3 separate regions of the Homo sapiens genome follow, and regions 1 and 3 are each reported to be linked to region 2. Evidence: microRNA targets listed by miRTarBase, many of them from high-throughput screens and not tested one by one. Region 2 holds a microRNA gene; each other region holds the end of a gene's coding sequence.
Evidence for each region. The annotated mature microRNA hsa-miR-7106-5p reads UGGGAGGAGGGGAUCUUGGG and lies in region 2 at 2,050-2,069, opposite strand. An mRNA with a match to its seed (bases 2 to 7 or 8) in the 3' UTR can be bound and repressed. Matches are read on the target gene's strand: a 7mer-m8 pairs with bases 2 to 8, a 7mer-A1 pairs with bases 2 to 7 and ends in A, and an 8mer does both.

Region 1 (3,000 bases), not on the chromosome of region 2:
TTACTGGACAGCCTTGTCCTGGAAGATCTGTGCACTCTGCCCACTGGGTGAGCAGGGACCCAGAAGACCACAGAACCACATCCTTTAGGGAGTGCCCCTACGAGAGGGGTCTTGGTGGGAGGGGGGCTACAGGAGTCTAGAAGGGAGAGGACATAATTCCCCCAAATCTCCAACTTTTGAGGAAAGCCTCCCCTCCTTGCCCCAGGTGGCCCCAGCACTGGGGTGGAACATGTGTACAGAGAACCAGGCCACAAGAGACTGGATACGCAGAGCCGCTATGGGCACCAGCCCCTCTGAGCTGTGTCCAGCCCCTACCCCTATGCCCTGTTCTTCCGGACAACAAGTCCAGGCCTGACCTGGTTCTGCCCCTACCTGGAAAGAGGGAAGACACAGAAGAAGACAGCCCCTGAGAAGTCCGCCCCAAGGCCTCCTTCCCCCTCGCACTGAAAGAATCTCTCAGCCCTGGATCAGGGCCCCTCACCAGGAAAGTTGACAGAGCGGGGTCTCAATGACACTGCCCCAGGGCCCAGCTGGGCTGGAAAACAGATCCAGACCAGCGCTCCCAGCCCTCCCTCCCCTAGCAGGAATAAAGGGCATGACAGACAATGGTGGGGACCGGGGTAGGAAGCGGGAGACCAGCCACCCTCAAACCTTGTCAAGTCTAAACAAGGGCCCTGAGCAAGTGTGGGGAAGAAAAGGCCCCAAATCCAGACCCCTCCGAGCCAAGCTCACAGCGCTCAGGGCTGGAACTCTGAATCAGCACCCCGACGCAGGCGGCAGAACTGAAGGGAACGTGAGCCCCTCCCTGCCTCTCAGGGGACACACGGCCGGGGCGCGCGGCTTTGGTCCCAGACACCCTCCACAACCCAGCGCAGCCGCGGCACCGCGCGCAGAAACCGGCCTGGGCGCTGGGAGGCCGGGCCCGAGGCCTGCGTGGAGCTGAGGCCGGGCGGGCTCCGGGAGCGCGCGGGCCGGGAGTCCAAAGGGCGGCGGGGCCCGGGACTGGGCGCCCCGGATATGAGCTCCAGGGTGGCAGGCAGGCCCTCCACACTGTGCGGCCCCCGGATCCCCGCCCCGACCCCCCAAGCACGGACGGCGGGACAGGCGACGGCACAGGGGACACGGTCTCCCCGGCTTCCCCACCTTCCCGGACCAACTCGTCCCCGTCGCGGGGGGGTGGGGAGGGCGGGGGGCGGGGCTTCCCGGAGAGATTTTCCCCCTTCCCTCTAAACTTCCCGGCACCCCGATCCGGGGCTCCAGCTCCGGCTGGACAATAGCTCGGGGACCCAGTCCCCCTCGAGTGTCGCCCCCCCAGCCAGCCCAGCCGACCAACCAAACCACCTCTCCCGAGCGGGGCCTCCTCCCGGCGTCCGCCCGGCTTACCTGGTCCGAGCTCGCGGGGGCGCTCCGGCCGGGCCGCTCCGCCGGGCCCGAGGGAGCCGCAAGGGGGGCCGGGGAAGGGGGGTCGTGGGGAGGGGGCTGGCCGGAATGTGCGGAATGAGCCGGGCTGGAGCGGGAGGCGCCGAGCGCGGAGGAGGGAGCGAGCGGGACGGAAAGTTTGTGTTGAGGAGCCGGGGCGGGGGTGGGGGCTGCGGGAAGGAGGGGGCGGGGCGCGCAGGGGGCGGTGCTGGCCGGGAGGGGCGGGGCCGTCCAGCCGCGCTCGGGCCGCCTACCCCGCGGCCTCGCGACCCGGCCACCCCGGCTGGCGCGCGCCTGGGCGCCCCGCTCCTCGCCCGCCCGTGCGGAGCTGCCTTCCTCCCCCTGCGCTCCGGGCCTCGCCCCGCTCCCGGGCACCCGCCGGAATTTGGGGCTCCGGCCTGGGGCGGGGCCGAGGGCGGAGCCCTCGCCTCGCGGGCAGGGCTCCCGTCGGTGCCGGGGGCCGTGGGTGCCGCGTCACGAGGAGCCCGGCAGAGCCGGAGCGCACGGGCCCCGGGGCTCCCGGCCCCTCCACCCTAGTCCCGAGCCGCCAAGGCGGAGCGTACCCTCCAGCTCGCGGGCCTGCCCCCCACTCCCGGGGCCCCAGACCCGGCTCCGCCCTGGCGGCTGCGCCCGCCCTGCCGGGACCCGGTTTGTCTGGTTCTCCCCGCGTGGCTAGTTTCTCGAATTTCTTCTCCCTTTCTCCCTCTTCCCCGACCTCCGGGACCCTCCCTTTCGCCCCGGCTCCCCGGGCCCCCACGGGGGGCGTCTCGACGCTGTGCGGCCGCCGAGTTTCGGTAGGACCCGCGACGGGCGCGGGGAGGGGACGCGGGAGCGCCCGGGGCCTGGGCAGGAGTGGGACGGGGGTTGAGACTTCCAGCTCGCGCCTCGGACGCCTCCTGCCGCCTCGTTCTCCGCACGCGCTGAGGAACCACCGCTCCGCTTGGCCAAGGACGCGGCTTTATTGGGGATGTGGGTGCCTGGCCCTCGTCCCCCATCACCTACCCCCTCCTCCTAGCCCGCCCCAGCTCCTCGGAGCCCTAGCGCGGTCCCGGGGAGAGGGGAGGTTAAAACAACAATGACTACTGCTCCCGGACAGGAAGTGACTGGGGCGCGGGGAGGAGGGGGGCACAGCGGCGCAGGCGAGCTCCGAGACCAGATGTGCGGCTCCAACTCCAGATGTTCTTCATCTCCGTCCTACCCGCCGTCCGGGCTCCTCCTGCCTCGGCCTGTGCCAGGCTGGGGAGAGGACGGAGGTCACCGAGAGGCAGTGAGAGGTCAGCCCCGACACAGGAGCAGTTTTCCGCGGGAGCTTTGCTGGAGGGACCCTGCCAGCCTCCACTGAATCCTTTCCCCCACGCTGACGGGCTCTGGGGGCGCTGAGGGGCTGCTGGGGTCACTCGCAGGCCAGCTTCCCGTCGAAACTGGAGAGGGCGATGGCGAAGGCCTGCAGGGCGCACAGCGGGTACCGGTAGTCTAGGGTGAAGGCGTCCTCCGCCACGCGGCCGAACTGCAGCACGATATAGTCGGCTATGGACACAAGACGGGGTGGGGGCGGCCCGAGACCTCCTTGGACCCCCATCC
Region 2 (3,335 bases):
CTCAGCTGTTGATACGGTGATGAATATGAGGGGGAGCCCACAGATGGTTGTAAGTTCACCCTCAAGTTCTAGTTTTTACAATGGATCCATGGTATTTATTAAGTTCATATTCATAAAGAAGTTAATTAAAACAAAAGGAGAGCCACCCACGGAGATAAGAGTAGGTCACAAACCAATGAATATGACTGATCCAGTTACAAGAAAATAAAGCTGATTGATGTAAATGAAAATACTAATTGGATAGTGCAGGTGACAGCAGCGAGGAAGCTGTGAAGGTGTCTGCTCACGCAGCAGTTGGGAAGGTTGGCCTGAGGCTTTCAAAACCCAGAACGGTTTAGGATCTCAGTCACCACCTCTGGGAACCACCATCATCACTGTTCTTTTAATGAGGGGATCTCCAGTCCCCGCCCTACCTTTCGGCCTCCCCCGCGTGTTGAGGGGTGGGGGCTGGACAGTGACTCTGGGGCTGGGATGTGACTTCGTGCTGGGCCCCCCCAGGTGAAGCTGTTCATGCAGGACCTCTCTGCCATGCTGGCCGGCCTGGGTCAGGCTGAGCCTGCAGCCCCTGCCTCCTAGCCCTGACACAGGTGAGCAGCGGGAGAGGGAACCCCTGAGAGACCCTGAGATAGGAGGGCCCACATTTCCAATGGGGTGTGGACTGAGTGGCTCTTCCTGAATCCGTTTCCTCATTGGGAAGATGGGAGGGCTGTGCCTGTTCAGAGTGCTGTGGGCCTGCCATGAGGGGCACATAGCAAGCACTCCATAAATGCAGGCCCTGATGAGGAGGTGATGGGAAGGTCAAGGGGCTATGTGTGGGGCAACTGCCTCTAAAATGAGATCAGACCAGGCCCTCCCTGCCAGGGTGGTTGGGGCATGAAAAAAAACTCTTTGTCAGGTCTCAGAACAGGGTCCATGCTAGATGAGAGATCACCAAGGCCCCCTCCACTATGGACTCTGCCAGGTGAGGGGCCCAGCCTGAGAATCCAGCTGCTGGGGCTGCCCTTGACCTTCTCAGAACCTCAAACAGGGGGTGGGTGGCAAGAAGACAGAGGACAGGCCAGGTTCTGACCTCCAGGTGTGGAGGGGCCGCGTTAACCTCTTCATAGCCAGAGGGGAGCAGCTGTGTCCTTGCCCCCTGGGCTGGGCATCCTGTTCCCCTCCCCCAGCCCACTCCCAGCTGCAACCATGTCCAGTGGGAGGAAGGGGGACCAACTCCCGCCTCTGGCACCTGGTTTGTGCTCTGAGCTTCACTTTCCTCATCGCTAAATGGACAAGGCAGCAGAACTCACCCTCAGGAGACCCGCAACTCCTCTGCCACGTTAGCTGGGATTTTAGTACCTGGGTCTCTCCATTCCAGTTCCCCAAGTAGACCGCACTCCTGGCCACCAGCAGTGCTCAATAAAGATTTATTACATTAAAAATTCCATTGCCAAACCCTGAGGCACTCAGGGCTCTGACCGGTGCAGCCATGACCTCTGAACCCAGAACACATGGAAGCAGCAGCAGCTGAGTTGCCAACTCAAGTCTTGGCCTGCCTGGCTTTGCTGGCGAACTCCTGCACACCCTTCAAGGCCCTGTTCAAATGTCTCTGTCTTAGGCTGACGCAGCTGCTGCCCTTCTGTGGCCATACAGTGCTCCTTTTCACAGATGATGGCTCCTGCAGGGAGTGCCCCCAGTGCCCAGCACAGGGCCAGGCACACAGTGGTGCACGGGAACGTCTGCTGATGCCCACCCTAAGGCCAATCAAGGAGCCACGGGGCTGGGTCCTGGTCCTCACATCCTCTTCCGCATCTTGCCCTTCTTGGAGCGGGCACCCCGGCCGAAGGCGCCCTGCTGCAGCTCCTGGACGCGGCGGCGGTTGCGGGCAGAGAGCTGCTTGAGGCCACCACGCTGCAGGAAGTGCAGCTTCTGGGCCCGGCGCCGCTGCTTCAGGATCTGCTGCTTGGTCTTGAGTTCCGGGCGGACTCGGCCTGCAGGGGTGCCTGGGGCGTGGGGCCGGGATGCACCTGCTGGGACAGGGATTCAGGGAGCTCAGCTGTTGGGATCACTCCCAAGATCCCCTCCTCCCAGAAGCTTGCAGACTCCTCCCCTGCCCCTACTCCTGTTCTGTGCTTATTGCTGTGGCCCAGTGTCTGTACACAGTAGGTGGCTAATAAAGTTTTAGGCAGCCTCATGGAGTGGTCAATAACACGGGGCCAGAACCGCTGGGGTTCAAATCCCAGCTGTGACCTCTTGGACCGTGGGCAAGAAGTTAACGGCTCTGTGCCTCAGTTTCCCCATCTATGAATTATAAATCACAGCACCTCCCTCATGGGTGAAGAGTAAATGCATTTCCATGGTGTAAAGTGGTCAGAATTTCAAGGCCTGTCCCATAGTGGGAGCCTTTTGGGCATGACTGTTACTATTAAAAATTCTCCAACCAAGGAGTGTATGTCTCCACAGCACACCTACGGCACGCCAGGCTCTGAGGCCCCCCATAGTAACCGATACAGACCTCAGCCTCTGTCTCCATGGACACCATGCTCTAGGCTTGTTAGATGAAAAAAGAGTGTAGATGAACCTTCCTTTAGGTGGGAGAGGAATCAAAGAAGGCCAGAGAGGGAGAGGGACTTATCTGAGATCACACAGCAAAGCAGCAGCAGCAGCAGAGGTCAGCGACCCTGCCCCAGCCCCACAGGTGGGCATCAGGTAGTCCATTCTTCTAGTTCTCCGGGAGGCAAGCACCACCCTCCCTGGCTCCCACTAAGCCCTGTGTCCTCCTCCTCCTCTTCCCCATTCATAACAGCAGCCTCCCCAGGGCTCCTAGAGGGATGACCATTAAGGTGGTCCCAGCTGTCTCCAATGGAGCCAGGGTGCCTCGCAGGACCTATCACCTCCAATGAGGACAGCAAAGGAAGAACAGCTGCTTTTTCCCAAAGCCCACAGGTCGCCCCCGTCTCCCCAGCCCCTGCACGCCCACTGCACGGCAATGCTCGCAGCAGAAGCTGCTGTTTCACCTAGGTAAAAACAGGCTGAGAAGTGAGGTGTGGGTGGTCCCCACCCAGCCATGCTGACAAGGAGACACTCCCACAGATGGGAGAGCTGGAGAGGGAGGAGCCACAGAGAACAGGCCCAGGCAAATGCACGCAGGCTCACAGAGACACCCAGGGGAGGCAGTGACCAGCCCCAGGAGGTGGAGGGACACAAGCAGGGGCTAAGGCCATCTGAGAGAGACCCAAGACATGGTCCCAAACTCCCCTCTCCCCAGGGAAGACTCCAGGTGGGAGCCTTGGGCAGCTGGGTGACCCAGGTTCAGTCATAGCCCTCATAAGGCACCTGTTTCCTGGCCTGTAAAA
Region 3 (3,335 bases), not on the chromosome of region 2:
AGTGGTAGACGCCTGGCTTTCAGGTCCTGAGCTGCGGGCACCGGAGCGTGGGACCCCGGCTGCAGCACCGCCACGCGCTCCCGCCCTCCCACCTGCAGGGCGGGGGATGTCTGTCCAAGAGGCCGGGGCGACAAGCCCGCCGGCCAGGATTCTCAAGGAACCAGGCCCAGCTCAGCCTCTCTCGGCGGGACCAGAGTGGGACCGGGGCCGCGGCGTCCGAAGACGCTGCGGGCCAGGGGTCCTCCTCGGCGCCAGCTCCGTTTCCTGGGGTCTCGCGACGTCCGGACATCAGGGTCGGGGGTGTGGAGACGGCGGCGGAGCCAGAGTCCCCACCAAGTCAGTTCCAGGAGGCGGCCCGCGCGCTTCCCGCAGTGTCCGGGAGGTCGCTGGGGGTGGCTTTGCGTGCAACCCGGGTAAAGGCCCTGCAGCCGTGAGGCTGGCGCTGGGAGGAGGGTGGAAAATCTCAAAGTCACCAATCCCGGTGCAAATGGCGGCAGGGGCCGCGGGCTGTCGGACGCAGGCGAGAGGCCAAAGGCTGACTTCGCGCGGCCGTGAGTCCCCAGAGGCAACAGGGGTACCTGAGCGCCGAGGGGATCCCGAGACTCGGAGAAACCGGAAGAGCCTGACCCCAGGGAGCGGAGAGTTTGGGGTGCGCTCTCAGAGCTGTGACTCCACGGTCCCGGAATCCTTGGAAAGGGCGCTCTGGGCTCAGAGCTCCCAACTAGCCGGAGGACCTGGGCTAGCGCCCAGGCCTGGAGCGTCTGGGAGGGGGCGCTGGGTCTCGGCCCCCCTCCCCCCAAAAGGGACTGAGACTTTTTTCTGCGTGCTTCCTTCGGCGCTTCGGGCAGCTCTGTCCTGCGGCCCAAGCTGGGGAGAAGACAGCGGCCCGCGCCACAGGGAGCTGCGCCCGGACCCAGACTCCCGCCGCGCTTCTGCAGAGCGGAGCCCTAGGTGCCCACCTGGTAGCCCCAGAAAGGCCGGACCTGGGCGCCGGGACGCTCGCGGGGCCGCACTTGGAGGGGCTTTCCGGGTCCTGGCCGGGCGGGCTCTCCTGCGGCGCGGAATGGAATAGAGCGCCGGCTGCAGAGCCACCCGGACGGGGAAAAGCAGCGGTGGCGCCGGCCAGCCCCGGGTCCCGACTCTGGAGGGAGGAAGGAGCGGGCGGGTGGGGGTGGGGGTGAGGGCGAGGGTTGCGGGGAGCGTTTAGAAGGCCCTGGGCAGCCAGAAGAAGAAAAGAGGACGCACTCTCCCCTAGGGACCAGAGGGTCCCTGCGTACTCCCCCCAGGCCCGGGACACAGGTTCCCCCAGCGCCCCTCCGCCTCCCAGTCTATTCGGCTTGCCCCAGCGCGCTGCCCCACGTCCCCGAGGCCCCGGCCCAGGCCCAGCCGGCGAGTCCCGGCCTGCTCCACTCTGCACAAAACGAAACCCAAATGCCCAAAAAGCTCAGGAGGGAAATTTAACAAAAACCCTGTCCCCCGCCCCACACCCCCTTTCACTTTTAACAAGCCAGCTGCCAAGAGAAAATTGAAATAAAAACGAAATGATAGATAGCGGAGGACACTATTTTCCAAATGGTGAAATATCCTCTAAAAATATGTTCCCCAAGGCCAACTTCGCGGCTGGTAGCCCCTTCCGACGCCTTTGCCTCCCAGAAAATCACAACAAAGCGATCGGAAATTCAGCCACGGTCCCGGGAAGAAGGAGTAGCAGTGAGGCCCCGGAACCCACTGCGGCCGAAACTGCCATGCTCTCTTTAACCAAAATAAAAAAGATAAGAAGAAGAAGTAAAACCCTTTAATACATCAAATATACGGAATTTTAATCTTTAAAGCGATACATTGTCTATTATTTTAGTACATGACGTAAACCTTGTCCCCTTCTCAGCGGGTGGACTTAAAAATTAAAAATAGTTAAGTGTTCCTTTTAAAGAACAAAATAAGGCAAATGAGGTTTTGGAATAGAATTTTTTCTTTTTCTTTTTTTTTTTGTTGTTTTCTTCCAGAATACATACAAAAAAATACCCATTCTCTTCGATGGTATACACCTTAAAAATAATTGCAATTTGAAATCAGAGCTGACAAATTGTGACTTTTTTTTTCATTTTTTTTGTAACAAACATGCATGTAAATTTGTGTTTCAATCAGACATTAAATAACGTACAATACAATCATAGCAATTTTAAAGTAACATTAAAGAGAAGACCTCTAGTTCTGTGGCGGTTTTGCTTTTATTTATAATCTACAAGGGATGGGAGGGTTTGTTTTCCACATTTTTACCCTCAAGTTTTAAAATTTTTCCCACCTCCTTTTTACCTACAGAGCTCAAACTAAATAATGCACTTTTGAACCACCGGTCCGCTTGGAGCTAACATAAATAAATACCAGTGTCCACCGATGCAGTCCTCAGATGAACACTTTCTCAATTATTTTTTCCTTTTTTTTTCTATAAAAAGTCAAATGATATTTTTTCAACTTTTATAAAGTTTGGGTGGGGAGGTGAAAGTGGGGAGAAGGGGAGTGTCCCACCGGGTCTCGGTCGCTGCTGTCGGGTAGATAGATACGGTATACATTTCTTTCCTTTCGTGGCCCGAGTCCTCCCCACGCGCGGGTGTCAGCAGCCTGGGCCGTGATCCCGCCTCTCCCTGGACTCCTCCCCTCCCCCTCTCCCTCCTCTCCCTCGCTCGCCCTCCCGGCCGCCCTCACTGATACCCCAGCGCCGAGGCGGTGGTCAGTCTCTGTCCGTAGAGGGCGTAGGGGGAGTAGTACGGTCCGGTGGCGGCGGGCACCGGCACGGGGGCGCCAGGCGTGGGAAGCGGGCTCTTGGAGTAGGGGTGGTAGCGGCTGCTGAGTCCCAGCGCGTGGTGGGGGCTGCGCAGCGCCAGCGTCCCAGGGCTGCCCGGTGCGCCCGAGGTGGGGATGTGCATGTGGCAAGCCATGGCGGCCGCGGCAGCGCTGGCCAGAGACGACGAGCTGGGGTAGCCCGACAGCAGTTTGTCTGTCCCGGGAAATGCCGTATGGGTCCGCAAGTGGCTCAGCAGCTCTTCGGACGTGGCGAAGCGCTTGTCGCACGGCCCGTTGGCCGACACCCAGTTGCAGATGTGGGGGAGTGGGTCGTTAGGGAGCATAAAGCCGTAGGGGTAGAGGGGGTGGCCGGCCAGGGAGGGCGGTGTGGCGCCAGCAGCCGCGGCGGCCGTTAGCGAGGAGTGCACACCGTGCAGCGGGTGCGTGGGGTACACCAGCGGGTATCCGGACTTCAGCGCCGCAGCCGCAGCAGCCGGATCATGTGCGCAAGAAGCGCTGGCGGCCGCCGCCCCTGCCAGGTGGCTAGCGCAGTG

Region 1: the mRNA of TULP1 is a reported target of hsa-miR-7106-5p. Seed matches in the 3' UTR shown: 7mer-m8 at 2,533-2,539.
Region 3: miRTarBase lists ZNF503 as a target of hsa-miR-7106-5p. Seed matches in the 3' UTR shown: 7mer-A1 at 2,250-2,256.

What each region holds. Positions count from the first base shown.
Region 1 is chr6:35,495,515-35,498,514 of GRCh38, forward strand. TULP1 (TUB like protein 1) reads right to left here. Exons shown (of 15, transcript NM_003322.6): 15 at 2,360-2,946. The coding sequence ends at 2,813. It overlaps TEAD3 (TEA domain transcription factor 3), which reads right to left and starts at 1,565. Exons shown (of 13, transcript NM_003214.4): 1 at 1,384-1,565. It overlaps LOC124901309 (a long non-coding RNA gene), which reads left to right and starts at 2,619. Exons shown (of 2, transcript XR_007059561.1): 1 at 2,619-2,693. RefSeq lists enhancers at 1-594, 1,541-2,471, 2,472-3,000 and silencers at 1,373-1,422, 1,603-1,732, 1,743-2,072.
Region 2 is chr12:113,157,104-113,160,438 of GRCh38, forward strand. MIR7106 (microRNA 7106) reads right to left here and starts at 2,074; the gene lies at 2,010-2,074. It overlaps CFAP73 (cilia and flagella associated protein 73), which reads left to right. Exons shown (of 8, transcript NM_001144872.3): 7 at 499-587; 8 at 1,598-2,173. The coding sequence ends at 576. It overlaps DDX54 (DEAD-box helicase 54), which reads right to left. Exons shown (of 20, transcript NM_024072.4): 20 at 70-2,006. The coding sequence ends at 1,774.
Region 3 is chr10:75,396,050-75,399,384 of GRCh38, forward strand. It overlaps ZNF503 (zinc finger protein 503), which reads right to left. Exons shown (of 2, transcript NM_032772.6): 2 at 1,781-3,335. The coding sequence ends at 2,700. It overlaps LOC124902461, which reads left to right. Exons shown (of 1, transcript XM_047426122.1): 1 at 1-2,208. The coding sequence starts at 107. The coding sequence ends at 1,072. Among named protein-coding and RNA genes, the nearest start is that of ZNF503-AS2, 3.8 kb to the right of the region's middle.